2 linked regions of the Homo sapiens genome follow. The protein of the gene in region 2 purifies or fractionates together with the protein of the main gene of each other region. This does not show direct contact. Each region holds a gene or a part of one and is shown on either strand. Other genes may lie near its edges.

Evidence for each region. Proteins that work in one complex are often made in the same cells at the same time.
Region 1: the proteins of MARK4 (region 2) and PNMA2 purify together in Homo sapiens (co-immunoprecipitation; 3 studies listed by BioGRID and IntAct, with this or other methods). This does not show direct contact.

Annotation. Positions count from the first base shown.
Region 1 is NC_000008.11:26,510,853-26,518,266, reverse strand, and holds the start of PNMA2 (paraneoplastic antigen Ma2), read left to right. Parts: upstream 1-4,394; 5' UTR 4,395-4,451; exon of another isoform or gene 4,452-5,439; intron 5,440-7,414. Other genes in the region: DPYSL2 (dihydropyrimidinase-related protein 2), read right to left, coding at 3,588-3,941.
Region 2 is NC_000019.10:45,247,106-45,254,284, reverse strand, and holds the start of MARK4 (MAP/microtubule affinity-regulating kinase 4), read right to left. Parts: upstream 3,015-7,179; 5' UTR 2,697-3,014; coding exon 2,646-2,696; intron 1-2,645. UniProt on the Homo sapiens protein: Serine/threonine-protein kinase. Phosphorylates the microtubule-associated protein MAPT/TAU. Also phosphorylates the microtubule-associated proteins MAP2 and MAP4.

The DNA of each region.
Region 1 (7,414 bases), on a different chromosome or scaffold from region 2:
GTTTTGAACCAATATGACCTGTAAAGTATCAAGGTATTGCCTTTATTCCAAATCTCCACCACACACCCCACTAACCACACATTCGTTTTGTTTAACAGGCTAGTCTATTATCAGACACGGATCTCTGGGGACAACTTGGGCATCAGTTGTTTGCCTGAGGAGCAGATGGCTTTAATCATTGGAATTTCTCTTTAACTAAGATTAATGCAAGTTAAGAATTCTGAATGGGAGAAGGGAAGCCAAGACTGATTTTAGAACCTGTTGCCCTTTGGAAGAAGAAAGGTCTAGAAGGGGCATGCTATGGGGATGGAGTAGGGATGACGTTGTACAGTTAGAGGGCAGCACAGCACTGGGCTCCCAGGGCCAGAAGAGATTCAACACAGGCAGAAGGGATGGGGACCCAGATGGAAGGGAGCACCAGAAAGCACTTCACAGACTCAGTAACATTGCCAAGCTCAGCAGCACTGTGCAGTTCATTCAGCGGCACCTGCCCTGGAGAGGAGGAGAATCACTCCCTGTCACTCCAGCCTGCATAGGTTGTTTGCTGCTGGGAAAAGGGCCTAGAGGCCCCTTTGAAAAGCATTCTTATGGTCCAGTATTGCTGGTGGAGCCACTGGTTCTGGCTACGCTGTGTCTGGAGTGGAATGGAGGAAGTTCCTAGGAGGAAGGGAAGAGGCTGAAGGACCCCTGGGCACTGACAAGGGGGGATTGGGCCAACAGAGATGCCTTTCTTCTCTCTCTTCCAAGAGGCTCAGAGTCTTTCACAGTGGTGATCAATGTAACCTCACTGAAGCCCAAAGTGGACTTATAGGAAAAAGAGAGTAACAAGATAGAGGCTTTCCTCATTCACAACCACTATGCCAGCTCTTTTCCTCCGCCAAAATCTGACATGCCGAGTCAAGCCACACCCATCGCTTTCTGGTGCTGTCTGGCTCATACTCTGAATATAATTTCATTTAGTTCCTGCAAATGCACATGTCCAACATCTCTCATCTTCCATGAGCCATGTGGCATGTGGGTCAAGGAAGCCTATTCTCTCCCTTCCCAAAGCCTTGTTAGGGGAACAGCAGGCCTCTTAGTGCAACAGATGAGCAAAGCCACATCTGACCATACATTAGTAACACATAAATAAAGCTGCAAGAGAGGAGGGATGGTGTGAGTCAGGGTCCCAGGATCCACCCATTCTCAATCTCCCCCACCTTTCTCTGCGTCAGGGCTTCCAATTAGAATGCACAGAGATGCTGGCACTCACCCAACTCATTCGTTGAAAACCAACTAATGACAAGTCAACTCAGTCAAAATGGTGGGCCAGTTGAGCTTTTCGGAAGTCACATTGTTATAAATATAAACACATGTATAGCCACAGCCTTTCCCCTTTTCTAAAGACATGAAATATTGAAACATTGCAAGTACTGATCCAGGTAAATGCTCTTAGTCGTGAATGACAAAATCTCATTGAGTAGGCCTTATATGATAAGGCAAGATTAAACATGAAAATTCAGGGGAAGGTGCTGCAGAAAGGCCAAGCTAGAATCGCCCTCTGTTACTAATAACTGGGCAACTGAAATCAATGTGAATTGCAATCTAAAACTCCCTTGCAGTTTGTTTGAGTATTTTCTCTTCAAATCTCCCCCTCTGCGTGCCTTAGTTTTACAATTTAGAATTTCATATATCTAAGCTTCTAAATGGCCAAGAAAAAAGAAGTGTTATTCAACCCGATAAAACTATGCCTTTCAAACTTGAGTTCTAATTCATGATAGGGGTGGGCCACTTTCAACCCCTATCCTCTGATCTGCCACTTTTTACATGATTTCTTCTTTATTCTCCAGTTGTTTTTCTGCTTTCTCTAGGACATCACAATCACCAGCACAACTCGCCATGCATGAGGCTACTCACTCAACCAAGATGCTATATGATTTTGGCCCTCACTCAATGTACTCACACAGGGAAGTGTTTCACACACACTCACTCAGCTTTCAGTATAAGTTACATTATTAGAAACTTTTACTTCAATTGTCTGATCACTTGGAACAAAGCAAGTTTTTTGGATTTAGTTTCTTCTGGTTGACTCATAGTGAAATATGGATATGAGACACTCCCTTATATGAATAAATTAGAGGGCAGGGCTGGGGTTGGATATAAATTATTAGTTGTGTCACCTTTTACAAATGACAGCAAATGCCTTGTTTTTCCTAGACTTGACCCTACAAAAGTCAAAAGCTGCAAAACTCTATGTCACATCAGCAAACAGTCAAATCATGCCCCAACCATCATCACCAATTCTGAATTGTTCTCAAAGGCTGTCACTGTAAGTACACAAATGTAAATGCTTGTGGAATCCCTCGCTGAATATGTATAGACCACTCCCAACTACTCTGGAAGCCCTCTGAGAAGAAGAAACCTCTTGCACTTTCTATAACTAACCTTCCCTCTGCCCTACAAGGCAAGGCGCACAATAGGTATTCAATCAACAATCATTCATTGATTGACTTATTATTTTTACCAGCAGGCATGGGAGAGAAACGGAAAACGTGTTAAAACATTTTGCATTGTAAATTATCAGTTAAGAAATTAAGGCTGTGGAAAAGAATTACACTAGTGTAAGGATCACTCAGATAAAGAAAGAATTGTGGTGTGAGATTATTACTGCGCTGAAAATGCTCACTGTTCATATTTGTCAGAAAGTGACAAACATTTTCTAAAATCAAGCGTGACCAAATTGGCCTTTGTTTCCCCCATTAACACAATAAAAGGGGGTTTAGTCTTCTTCGACAGTCTATTTCGAGTGCGAGGGGTTTTCCCCCTTTTCTTGTCTTTTTGACCCTTTGAACATAATCCACTTAGTTCCCCGCTTCCTAAAGCGCCTCCCACATAGCGGTTTGGGGAGCGCTCTGTGAAGCCCCGGCTGAGACACTTATTGGAACTTTGTTCCCCACATAGGCTATTTAGGAGCGTCTCGGTTTCCTCGGGTGACTCCACAGCCTTCCTGGCTCTTCTCACGCTGCGAGCAGGAGTCAAGGGCGGTGCGGTGCTCGGAGGGGGTCCGGGGGGCGCTGACCATGGTCCTGGCCTCGGAGCTCGGGACGTGAGCGCAGAAGGCGCGGGCGGAGGCTGTAGGGAGCGGCCGTCCGAACCCCCGCCCCTCCCGACCACCGGGGAGCCGCGGGCCTTCACGCAAAGCCTCCACCGCACGCTCTGAGCCGCTCAAAAAAAGGGTGGGGCACCCAGCCGCAGCTGCAATCGGAAGCCGCCCGGGAGGGTTTCAGAAGAATGGAACCGCGGCCAACCCCCTCCCAGACGACCACCGCCCGCCCCAGCAGGGGATCAGCCCATTCCCTATGCCCACGCCCCACCTCTCAAGCTCAAGGAGACGCGGGCAGCCTTTGTGGGCGCACGGCCGCCCACCGCCCAGCCCGAGCCTCGCCGCACCCTGCGCGGAGAAGGGGCGGGTAGGGCGGGGTGCGCGTGCAGATGCGGGAGGCGAGGTCCAGGGCGGGGCATGAAGGCGGGCGCGCCGGGCTCAGGGGCGAGGGAGGGGCGATCCCCGCGCCCCGTCCTCCGTCTCCACCCCCAACCCCCACACCGACCTGGTCGTTGATGTTCTGCAGGGCTTCTTTGCCCGAGGCCCTCCGGATCTCCACCTTCCGGCCCGATTCAACAGATGGCTCTCCGCCGGCGCGCCGGCCCTGCCGCGAGTACGGCGGCTGCGGGTCCGGGCCCAAGTGGGCGACGTCCCGCTGCTGAGCCACCACCTGCCCCGAGCCCCGGCCCACCGACAGCGAGTCGAAGTCGATGGTCTTGTTCTCCGAGGACCCTTCCACCGGGCAGAACATGCCACAGAATTTCTGCCGGGGCTTGGGGCTGCCGGAGCCCAGGTTTTTAAAAAAAGCAGGGACCTCTTCGTCCTCTGCCGCCTTCCCGGATTGCTTTCTCTCGGCCATGGCTCGGGGGCTCGGGTAGGGTCCTCGCCGTCCGTCCGTCCGTCTGCCAGTCCCTAAGTCTCCCTCGCTGTGTGCACAAGCCCCCTAGCTGCTGCCGCGGCTGCCGTTCGCCGCCCACCGCAAGGTGCACAGAAAGGAAGGAGGGCTGGCGAGCCGGCGACCCACCCTCCCGGTCCCTCCCCCTGACCCCGCTTCTCCCCTCCCTGCCCACGCCCCCCGCGGCTACAGCGCGAGCTCGGGGAAGCGGCAAAGTTGGATCTGGGAGGGCGTCCGCTGCGGCTGCGGGAGCCGAAAGGCTGCCAGTTCCCGGCAGCGCTGGGAGGAGGGAGGCGCGGGCGGGGCGCGGCGCCGGGGAGGGGAGCGGTGCTCAGGGGAGGGCTGGAGGGGAGGGAAGGAGAGAGAGAGGGGAGGGCGGCACCGCCCCTAGCCCCGCGCTCCGGAAGTGAAGCGGCCAGACCACCAGCTAATGGATGCGGAGCGGAGGGCCCGCTGACCGCTCTCCGCGCCTGGGTAAGTATCGGGCAGGGCACGCGGAGTGAGGACCGGAGGACGCAGCCCCCAGCCCCAGTGCCCCTCTCCTCCACCTGCCTGGCCCAGGCGCCTCTGCCCCGCCGCATGGCGGAGGTGGGCCGGGGGCGAGGGCGCACTGTGGATAGGGGTCCCGCCCCGTTACCCTGGGTGTGAGCTGATGGATGGGAAAAGGGGACAAGCCGGGCGCCAGGCTACTCAGGGTGTGGGAAGCGGGATGGCACTGAAGATGAGCAAGGATAGCACAGGCAGGGTGGACAGGAGGGGGGCAGCCAAGACGCTGGACACCCCAGCTTCAGTTTGTCCACTCGCCTTGGCAGGCTGCAGGGAGCAGAGACTGAAACGAGAAGGTTCCCGCTTCGTGCATCCACTTTGGTGTGGTTGGGGTGACGGGGGAGTGGGGGGGGGGCACACAACATGGCGGGAAGAAATTCAGAGGGGCGTAGCAGATGGGAGAGGAATATAGAGAGAGACGCAGGTCTGCGGTCTATGGGGGTGTAGCAAAGAGTGCAGTCGGGAATTCCAGCCCAGGGCCACGACTTAAAGACGGGGTGCAGACCGACTCTATTGCGCAAGGCGCCATGGACCGTGTCTGCGCCACTGCGCCAAGAAGGGCGCAGGAACGTGTCGCGATTTGGTTTATTCTGCTTCCTCCACCAAAAAAAAAAAAAAAAAAAAAAAAAGAGAGAAAAAACAAACTGAAACCCCCTTCCCAAATCTCCAGCTTTCCCCTGCGCCCCAGAGCCCCGCCTGGTTCCCCCGCCCCTGTTGCGCACTGCGCCACAGTCGCAGCGTTTCCCGGGTTACCAGATGCCACGTGTTTGGGGAGTAAGTGCGGGTGCGCATCTGGTGCGGAGTAGGAGGTAGGATGTGGGCTGTGAGTGCCATGAATTGTGTGGGGCCAAGCAGGGGAAAGGTGTGTAGGAACTTGGTGTGTGTGTGCAGTAGCTGAGCCACGGCCACCGGGTTGGTAAGTAACCAGGGGGCAATTAGATTTGTGTGCCTAACACGGTCAATGCTGGTCCTTCATTGCTTATTCCCATCTCCACGTCCTTTCCGCGTATCAGTCCCTGCCTCTGCGCGATGACAGCTCCGCCTCTCTTTCCACAGTGGCAAAATCCTGCAGAAATGGTGCCCCTCCTTTGGTGGCCCGGGAGGGAGTTCTGGGCATGCTCAGTAACCAGGGTGGGTTTGGGCTGAGAGGCCGTTTACCGCAGGGCCACCGCGTAGGGCCGTGTAACCAGGGATCCAGTCCCATTGTCAGCCCAGGATTAAATGCGGTTACCAACCACCCCCACAGTCCAATTGTGAGAGATAGTTTGGTGAATATAGTTACATCTGCTGGACAATCAGTCGCAATTTGAAGATCAGCCCATCTTGATAGGTGGAAAGGCGTCTCCGGATGAGAAACAGACTGGGGAAGAAGAATATAGGAGTGGAGGGGCTGAGAGAACCGGAGGGGGCATTTTGGACTTAGCGGCAGATGTGCTTTGCATTTGAATAAAGCATTTGAAAAAAGCGCTTCCAACTGAATTACATCATTTCCTACTCACAGCCCCACTGTGAGATGCGTGCCTTATCAGCACTGCTTTCCAGGTTAGGAAACAGATTTAGAGAGCTTGGGGCGCATAGCCAAGGTTGGGTATTTAGTTAAATGATCCAGCAATTCCAGTGGGAGTCTTCCACCTCAAAGTCTGGCTTCTTTTCCAGCTTGTCCTGTGACCCCCTTTATGTGAGAAAATACAAGGTTCTTCTATTTCTACCGTATCCAGATATTTCCATCCATGGCCCTATTGTATATCAAGGGTGTTTCTTGCCATGTTTTTATTTGAAGGTAACACTGCAGGTCACACTGGGAGGAAGAGTCATCTGAAGATAGCCTAACTTCAGCATAGCAGTCATTCTGTAGACCATAGAGATGCTTTTTCCTGGGCAGTGTCTTTTTACATTCCCTGTTTCCTCTAAATATCCCAGTGGGGAGGAAGGTTGCCCCCAGCTGGTTTTTTTATTTTTGTTTTTGTTTTCAGACAGAGTCTCACACTGTCACCCAGGCTGGAATGCAATGGTGCAAACGCAACTCACTGTAGCCTTGACCCACTCGGCTCAAGCAGTCCTCCCTCCTCAGCCTCCCAAGTAGTTGGGACTACAGGCGAGTGCCACACGCCCAGCTAATTTTTTTATTTTTCCTTTTTGTAGAGACAGGGTCGCACTATGTTGCTGGTCTCAAACTCCTGGGCTCAAGTGATCCTCCCGCTTTGGCCTCCCAAAGTGCTGGGTTTACAGGTGTAAGCCACTGCACCTGGCCCTCCCCCACAGTCCCCACATTTTAGAAAGGAAAAGTCAGGCATGGAGAAGTCAGCAGTCTCAGGTCTCTGGGGCTCCTGGGCACAGGGGTGAAGCAGCATTTTGCCCTCCTGGCTCTCTGGCACCCCTGGTGCCTTCAGCACTTCCCAGAAGACTCAGGAGATCTTCCCACAGCAGGAGCACTGCTGATAGAGTTACAGGACAGCACTGTGGCGTATGGCCCCCATTCGAATTGATGAAGATGTTTAGGCCAAGGGGGAAATGGTTGTAGCCCCTTAACACACACTCCGCAGCAGTAACTGGGAGGTATTAGGAACTCTAACTTTTTTTTTTTTTTTTTTTGAGACAGAGTCTTGCTCTGTTACTCAGGTTAGAGTGCAGTGGTGCAATCGTGGCTCACTGCAACTTCCGTCTCCCAGGTTTAAGCGATTCTCCTGCCTCAGCCTCCCAAGTAGCTGGGATTACAGGCACGTGCCACCACACCCAGATAATTTTTGTATTTTTGGTAGAGACGGGGTTTGGCCATGTTGGCCAGGCTGGTTTCGAATTCCTGACCTCAGTGATCTACCCGCCTTGGCTTCCCAAAGTGCTGGGATTACAGGCATGAGTCACCACGCCTGGCCAACTCTAACTTTTTTACG
Region 2 (7,179 bases):
ACAAAGCCCCTGGGGGCCGGGGGTGGGAGCTAAAATTGGCCTGCACCACCAGCTGGCCTGGCTCCCTCCCGCCCGGCTGGCGCCCCAACACCCGGGACTGTTGCTAGGGAACCTGGGGAGGCTGGCCCCCTGGTGGGGGGCCCTGGAACTTGGGGTGGGGGAGCATGACCCCACGTGGCTGTAGCCATGGTAACCAGGTAACAGGAGAGGGGGCTGCAACCTCCCATTCCAGAGGCAGGCAAGTGACTCCCCACCAGGACTGACAGGCAGGTCTTAGTGACAAGAGTTGGAGGAGAGAAAAGGGGATTAGCCATCCTCAAATCCGCACCATGCACGCATCTTAACAACCCAGGGAACAGCAAGTCTTCATTAGGCGTTCCACTTAACAGACAAGGAAACCAAGGCTCAGAGAGGTAAGGTTACTTGCCCGAGGTCACACAGCTAGGGAGGGACAGAAACAGGATGTGAACCCAAGTTTATCTGAACAATTAAAGTAGTGCTAATAACCACAACAGCCACGACACATGCCAGGCCCTGTGCACCTTAGTCACATCACGTCGCTGGCTCCTGCAAACATCCCTAACAGTGGGGGGCCATCATCAACCCGATTTAGAGATAAGGAAACTGAGGCTGCAAGCTGGGAGTGAATCTGCAGGCTCACTCAACAACCAATAACAGCCCTGAGCTGAGAATCCACGGGCTGTCTGACTCATACCCACAGCCACAATAGCAGCTGGCATTTGTGGAGTGCTTCCTAGGTGCCAGCCTTCGCCTGAATCGAGTAAGCCTTGGAGGCACTCAAGCGGTCACCCCTATTTTCCAGGGCAGGAAACTGAGGCTCAGAAAGGGAGAACTGGTTGTCTGAGGACACAAGGCAAACCAGCTGGCCATGTCAGCATTGGAACCCAGGACTGTGGAGCCCCTGGCACCTCACTGTAGATTGTAGTGACCAAGGAACAGAGGTGGTAGGCATTTCATTAGACTCCAAATTGGAGTTCTGGCCCATAGTGATGATGCGGGGTGGTCTCTGTGAGGGAGGGATCTGCAAGATGAGGAAGGGACAGATATAAATCTCTCTGATGGTGTGTGTGTGTGGGGGGGTCTGTCGGAGGTGAGGGAAACAGGGGGAAGGGGAACAGGGACCTGGCAGAAGGATTTGGAGAAAGCCACAAAGATCCCAGGTGGGGAGAAGTCTAGGATTGGGTGGTGGGCAGGTCTTTGGAAGTGATCAGTGATCAGAGACACAGGAGATGGGGAGGGGCCTCTCTGGGAAGCAGTGTAGGGGCAGGGGGCGCCTGGGAATGGTGGAAAGTGACAAAGCCATGGGGGCAGTGGAAGTCAGAGGCCAGGAATCCCTGGGTCTTGGGGAAGCTCCTAGGAATCAGAGAAGGGGGCTTCTAGGAGAAGTCCTTGAAACCAGAGAAGGGTCTGGGGGGCCTGGAAGTATGGGGTAGGAACTTCTTGGGCAAGGAGCAGCCCAGATGAATAAAGGCTGAGCCCTGGGGAAGGTCAAGGGGTCTAGAAATTTGGGGAGAAAGCTTCCAGCAGATTGACCCAAGGGAAAAGGGCTTGAAACCAGGGCAAGACGAGAGGCTTCAGGTCCAGGAGTTTTCTGGAAGAAGGATCTGGGGCCAGGCCCTGTAGCTGAGGAAGGCCTCTGAAGCTGAGGAGGGGGCTTCCTTGGAAGGCCAGACTCCCAGCAAGGAAGGGGGAGGCCCTGGGGCAGGAGAAAGGACGGTGGTTTGTGGGGAAGGGGTCTGAGTTTGGCCTAGCAGGGGGTCCAGAGGTTGGGGGTTGGGGAAGGGGCTGCCTGAAGCTGAGAAGTTGATAGAGGGCGGATGAGGCCTGGAGTCAGACTGGTCCAGGGCCTAGAAATACCAGCCTGGGTGAGGTGAGGGCCTAGAAGTTGGAGGCCAAGGCTTCCTGGGAGAGGAAGAGACCAGAAAGGGTCCAGGTGGCATCTGGGGGCCCCGGGGTGCTGGGATCTAGGGACAGGGCTGCTTGGAAGATGGGGACCAGGCCTGGGACGGGAGAGACCTTGAAGAAGCCAGAAAAGGGCCGGGGCCCAGGAGAGGTGGAAACCAGCTTCCTGCCAGGGGCTGCCCACAGGCGCCCTGGGTGCGTCCTGGAGGGGCAGAGGGCTGGGAATAAGAGGAGGGGGGCTCCTGGGGAGCCGGCACCCAGCCCCAGACAGGGAAGGCCGGAGCCAGAGGCAGGACTGGGCCAGGCCCTGCTGAGAGTGCCAGGGCCGGGCCTTGGGGGGTCAGGGGCCCTGCAAATCCGGGAGGGGGCGAGGTGTCGGACGCGGACGGCCTGGAGGGGAAACGGCTTAGCACAGGCAAGAGAAGGGAGGGGCTCCTGGAAGCAGGGGAAGGGGCTTCCTGGAGGGAACAGACCCGAGCGGAAGCGGTCTGCACGGGGACAAGAGAGGGGTCCCGAGAGAGGGGCGCCCCCAGGGGTCGGGCTGGGCTGGAAAAGGTGGGGAGGGTGGAGAGGCCTGGAAGTCCGGGAGGGGTCGAGAGGTGACGAGCCGGGTCGGGCCCAGGAAACGAGGGTAGGGGCTCGCGGGGCGAGGGGTACAACGGGGAGAAGGGTTTGGCGGCTGGACCCAGCCAGGGCTCCCCAAGGGGCCGGGCCCCACTCACCGTGTCCGAGTTCCGATCGTTGCCCGGGGCCAGCACCGTCCGCGAAGACATCTTCTCCGGGTCCCGGGGGGCAGGGGCGGCCGGGTGGGGGGGGCGGGGGTCCCAGGGTCCCCTCTCTTCCCCTCCCCCCCCGCCGGCCTGGGGACGCGAGCTCAAAAGCTGGGCGCCGAGAACGCCCGGGTCCGCGCGGCGGGAGAGGGGGCAGGGCGGGGGAGGGGAAGGGACGCCGAGGGTCCTAGTGGCCCCGTGCAGCGGGGACCCCGGGCGCCATGGGGGCGGCGGGCAGGCGGGCGGGCGGGGGCCGCGGAGGGGGCGCGGAGCCGGCCCAAGCGGCGGCGGAGGGAGGCGGTGGAGGGGCTGGGGAGGGAGGAAGGGACGTCAGGGGGAGGGGCGGGCAGGGCGGGGCGCCGGGACCCCGCCCCCCGCCGCCGGCCCTTAAAGGCGCAGGCCCGGGCTGGTCGGGGCGCCGGGGGCTCCGGGGGCTCCGGGGGCGGAGGCGGGTCTGGGCACGCCGGCGGGGAGCGTGTTCTCGCCCGAGACGAGAGGCGCACTGGAGAGGAGAGAAGGGGAGAGAGAGGCCGGGGCAGAGCGCCAGAGACGCAGAGAGAGAGATCGAGAGACGTAGAGATAGAGAGACACGAAGAGAGAGAGACGAGTTACAAAAGGGTGGAGAGGCGCAAGGAGATGAAGGAAGAGCCAGATGACAGAGAGAGAGAGACGCAGGGAGACAGAGACAGAGAGACCCAGAGACGCAGAGGGACAAAGACTGAGAGAGACCCCACACACACACAGGGAGAGACAAAGAGATACAGAGACGCAGAGATCTGTGAAGAGATAGAGATAAAGGGACTGAGCCAGAGAAGACCCCAGAGGCGCTGCCCACATTGTCCCTCCCCCTGGCCCATTCTCTCCCCAGTTGGCGGGGGGGAGCGGGGGAAGCTCTCCCCTCGGAGGCCTAAGGGTGGGGTGGGTGAAGGGGATGGTGTGCGGGGCTTGGCCACTGCTGAGGGCTCAGTGACCTCCCTAGTCAGGCTGCCTCCACTCAGCCACATAGATCCAGACCCGCAGGTTGGGGCTGCAGCATCCACTCCTTTGCACCCCAGCTGGGGTGTGGGGACCCTCTCTGTCCACCTGTATGACCCGGGGCAAGCACTTGCCCTTTCTGGGCTTCACTTTCCCAGTTTGTAAAGTGAAAGGAAGAATCCGTGTGTTGCTCACTGGCAGGTGCGAAGGAACCCTGTGCAGGTATTCGCCTGCAGGGCACAGCCACTCCCCATGCGGGCAGGCTGAGACCAGAGAGGACAAGAGCCTCTCGGAGGCCACACAGCGCTGTGGGGACCATCCATGCTCTGTGGACCAGGGTGGGATGAAAGAAAGACAGGCATTACATAGTCTTGGCCTGGGAGTCACATGGTTTTGGGAAGGGGTCTGTGCCCTGCCTTCTTCTATCTGAGGCTTATTTTCCTGAGCCTCAGTTTCCCCTTCTAAAACAGCAGTGTGCTGGATCTGGCTGGAGCGAGCTGATTGTTATGTCTCAGGAATTTTGGAACTGGTTGTTAAACACAGCCATTATTAAAAATTAAATTATGCAAACATACAATTAAATTACATTAAAGGTACAAGTAATACATACTCATCACGTCCTAGTTATCTTACTACATTTGCCATTATCTGTGATCTTGAGGTTACCTACGTCTATTGTAGCTGCACAGTAAAATTACTATATAATGGGGGGCAAAAATGCCATGTGATATCACCTTGGTAGCTTGAAATTAGCCATGGTGGGAATATTTACACCATGGAAATTGGCAAATGCTACAAATTAAGGCTCCACACCCCCACCTGCAGAGAGCTGGGGGTGTTTTGTTTTGCTTTGCTTTGTTTTGTTTTTGAGACAGGGTCTCACTGCATTACCCAGGCTAGAGTGCAGTGGCACGATTATGGCTCACCGCAGCCTGGACATCCCCGGCTCAAGCAATCCTCCCAGCTCAGCCCCACCAAGTCACTGGGACTACAGGTGTGCACCACCACGCCCAGCTAATTTTTTGTAGCCATATTGCCCAGGCTGATCTCCAACTCTCAGGCTCAGGCGATCCTCCCACTTCGGCCTCCTAAAGTGCTGGGACTACCCTGCACTCAGCCAAAAGCTGGTTGTGAAAGCACAGCACTGCTTGATACTATGAGCAACACAGACTCATGGCAGTTGCCCTTGTGCCAGGCTCTGAGCAGTTTCTCCTTTCTGCCACCCCAAGAGGTAGGGAGCATCTTTATCAATCCCATTTGCAGATGAGGAAACAGAGGCCCAAGGAAGGGAGAAACGTCACACGCTGAAGGTCACACGGCAAATTAGTGGCAGGGCTACAATTTGAATCCAAGTGCTCCCAAGTTCCAGAACTTGGACCCTCTCTCAACCACTGTGGTTTCCTGTCTCCGAAAAATAATAGCAGCAACCTCAGGCTGCTACTATTTTTATTTGTCAATTTGTTTATATTTATTTGTTATTTTAATGTTACTGCTAACAAATAAATGAGAATCTTTGAGTAAAGTGCTTCACAGGGGACCAGATTCAAAATTCATATGTGGGGACATTATTATTACTATTTGGCAAATATGGCCCGAGGAGCCTCAGGGACAGTGGCAGAGAGGGTGGAGTTCCGGGGTAGTGTTCTAGACGTACTGTGATCCCAGGGACGCCGCAGGGTGAAAGTGGGGGTCTTGGGGGTAGGCTAGAGGGGCTGAGCGCCCCCAACCCGTTCCCTGCATTGGCGCTGAGAGCTGCAGTTCTACCGTGCACCACACGGGGGCAGCCGATCACCTCCCTACACGCGCCCCACACACTCCAGGGTCCACCCCTGCCCTCCCTTCCCCAACAGCGTCCCCACCCCATTTCCCAGATGTGGGGGGACCGAGGCTTACAGAGAGGGAGGCTGCAAAGTGGATGAACCTTGAAAACAGCATGTGGCCGGGCGCGGTGGCTCACGCCTGTAATCCCAGCACTTTGGGAGGCCGAGGCGGGCGGATCACGAGGTCAGGAGATCGAGACCACGGTGAAACCCCGTCTCTACTAAAAATACAAAAAATTAGCCGGGCGCGGTGGCGGGCGCCTGTAGTCCCAGCTACTCAGGAGGCTGAGGCAGGAGAATGGCGTGAACCCGGGAAGCGGAGCTGGCAGTGAGCTGAGATCGCGCCACTGCACTCCAGCCTGGGCGGCAGAGTGAGAATCCGTCTCAAAAAAGAAAAAAAGAAAACAGCATGTTTAGCGAAAGAAGTCAGACGCAAAAGACCACTTACTGTATGCTTCCATTCATATGAAATATTCAGAATTGGCAAATCCATAGACAGAAAGTAGATTAATGGTTGCCAGGGGTTGGAGGCTGGGGAATGAGAAATGACTGCTGATGGGTACCAGGTTTCTTTTTGGGGTGATGAGAATGTTCTGGAATTAAATAGTGGTGACGCTTGCTGCAACCTTGTGAATATACTAAAACCTACCGGACTCTGTTTGAAAAGGGTGACTCTTATGTATGTGAATTGTATTTCAATAAAAAATAATAATAAAATTTAAAAAGGGGGCTGGACGCGGTGACTCACACCTGTAATCCCCGTACTTTGGGAGGCCAGAACGGGAGGATCACTTGAGCCCAGGAGTTCGAGACCAGCCTGGGCAACATAGTGAGACCCTGTCTCTAAATCAAAATAAAAAAAATAATTTTTAAAAAGGAGGGGGACGGGCACGGTGGCTCACGCCTGTAATCCCAGCCCTTTGGGAGGCCGAGGCGGGCAGATCACGAGGTCAGGAGATCGAGATCATCCTGGCTAACACAGTGAAAACCTGTCTCTACTAAAAAAAATACAAAAAATTAGCCGGGCGCTTGCAGGTGGCAAGCGCCTGCGTCCCAGCTACTCGGGAGGCTGAGGCAGAAGAATTGCTTGAACCCAGGAGGCGGAGGTTGCAGTGAGCAGAGATCACGCCACTGCACTCCAGCCTGGCGACAGAGCAAGACTCCGTCTCTAAATAAATAAATAAATAAATAAATAAATAAGGCGGGGTGGAAATCCTGCACGATCCCAGTACATGATGGGCCACTGCTGACCATGGGTCCGCGGTGCAGAGGCCGAGCTGGGGGGCAAGGCCTGTTCCTCTGCCTCCCGACCTGGTCATCCAGCTAGCCCTTCCTCCACAACCTATGTCTGGTGAATTCATTCCTTCAACTGGGGCATTCAGACCTTTGAATCTTAACCCTTGGATCCAGGAGGGAGCTGTGATCCCTAAGCCCAGCCCCCGATCCTAATGTTGACCCCAACCCTGATCCCAGCCTGGACTTTGCCTAGGCCAGTGATCACGCATCCCCCTCAGGCTGTGCCTGAGCACTTGAACACAGTTTATCTTATTTATTTATTTGTTTGTTTGTTTATTTGAGATGGAGTCTCACTCTGTCTCACAGGCCGGAGAGTGCAGTGGCACAATCTCGGCTCACCGCAACCTCTGCCTCCTGGGTTCAATCGATTTCTTCCGTCTCAGCCTCCCGAGTAG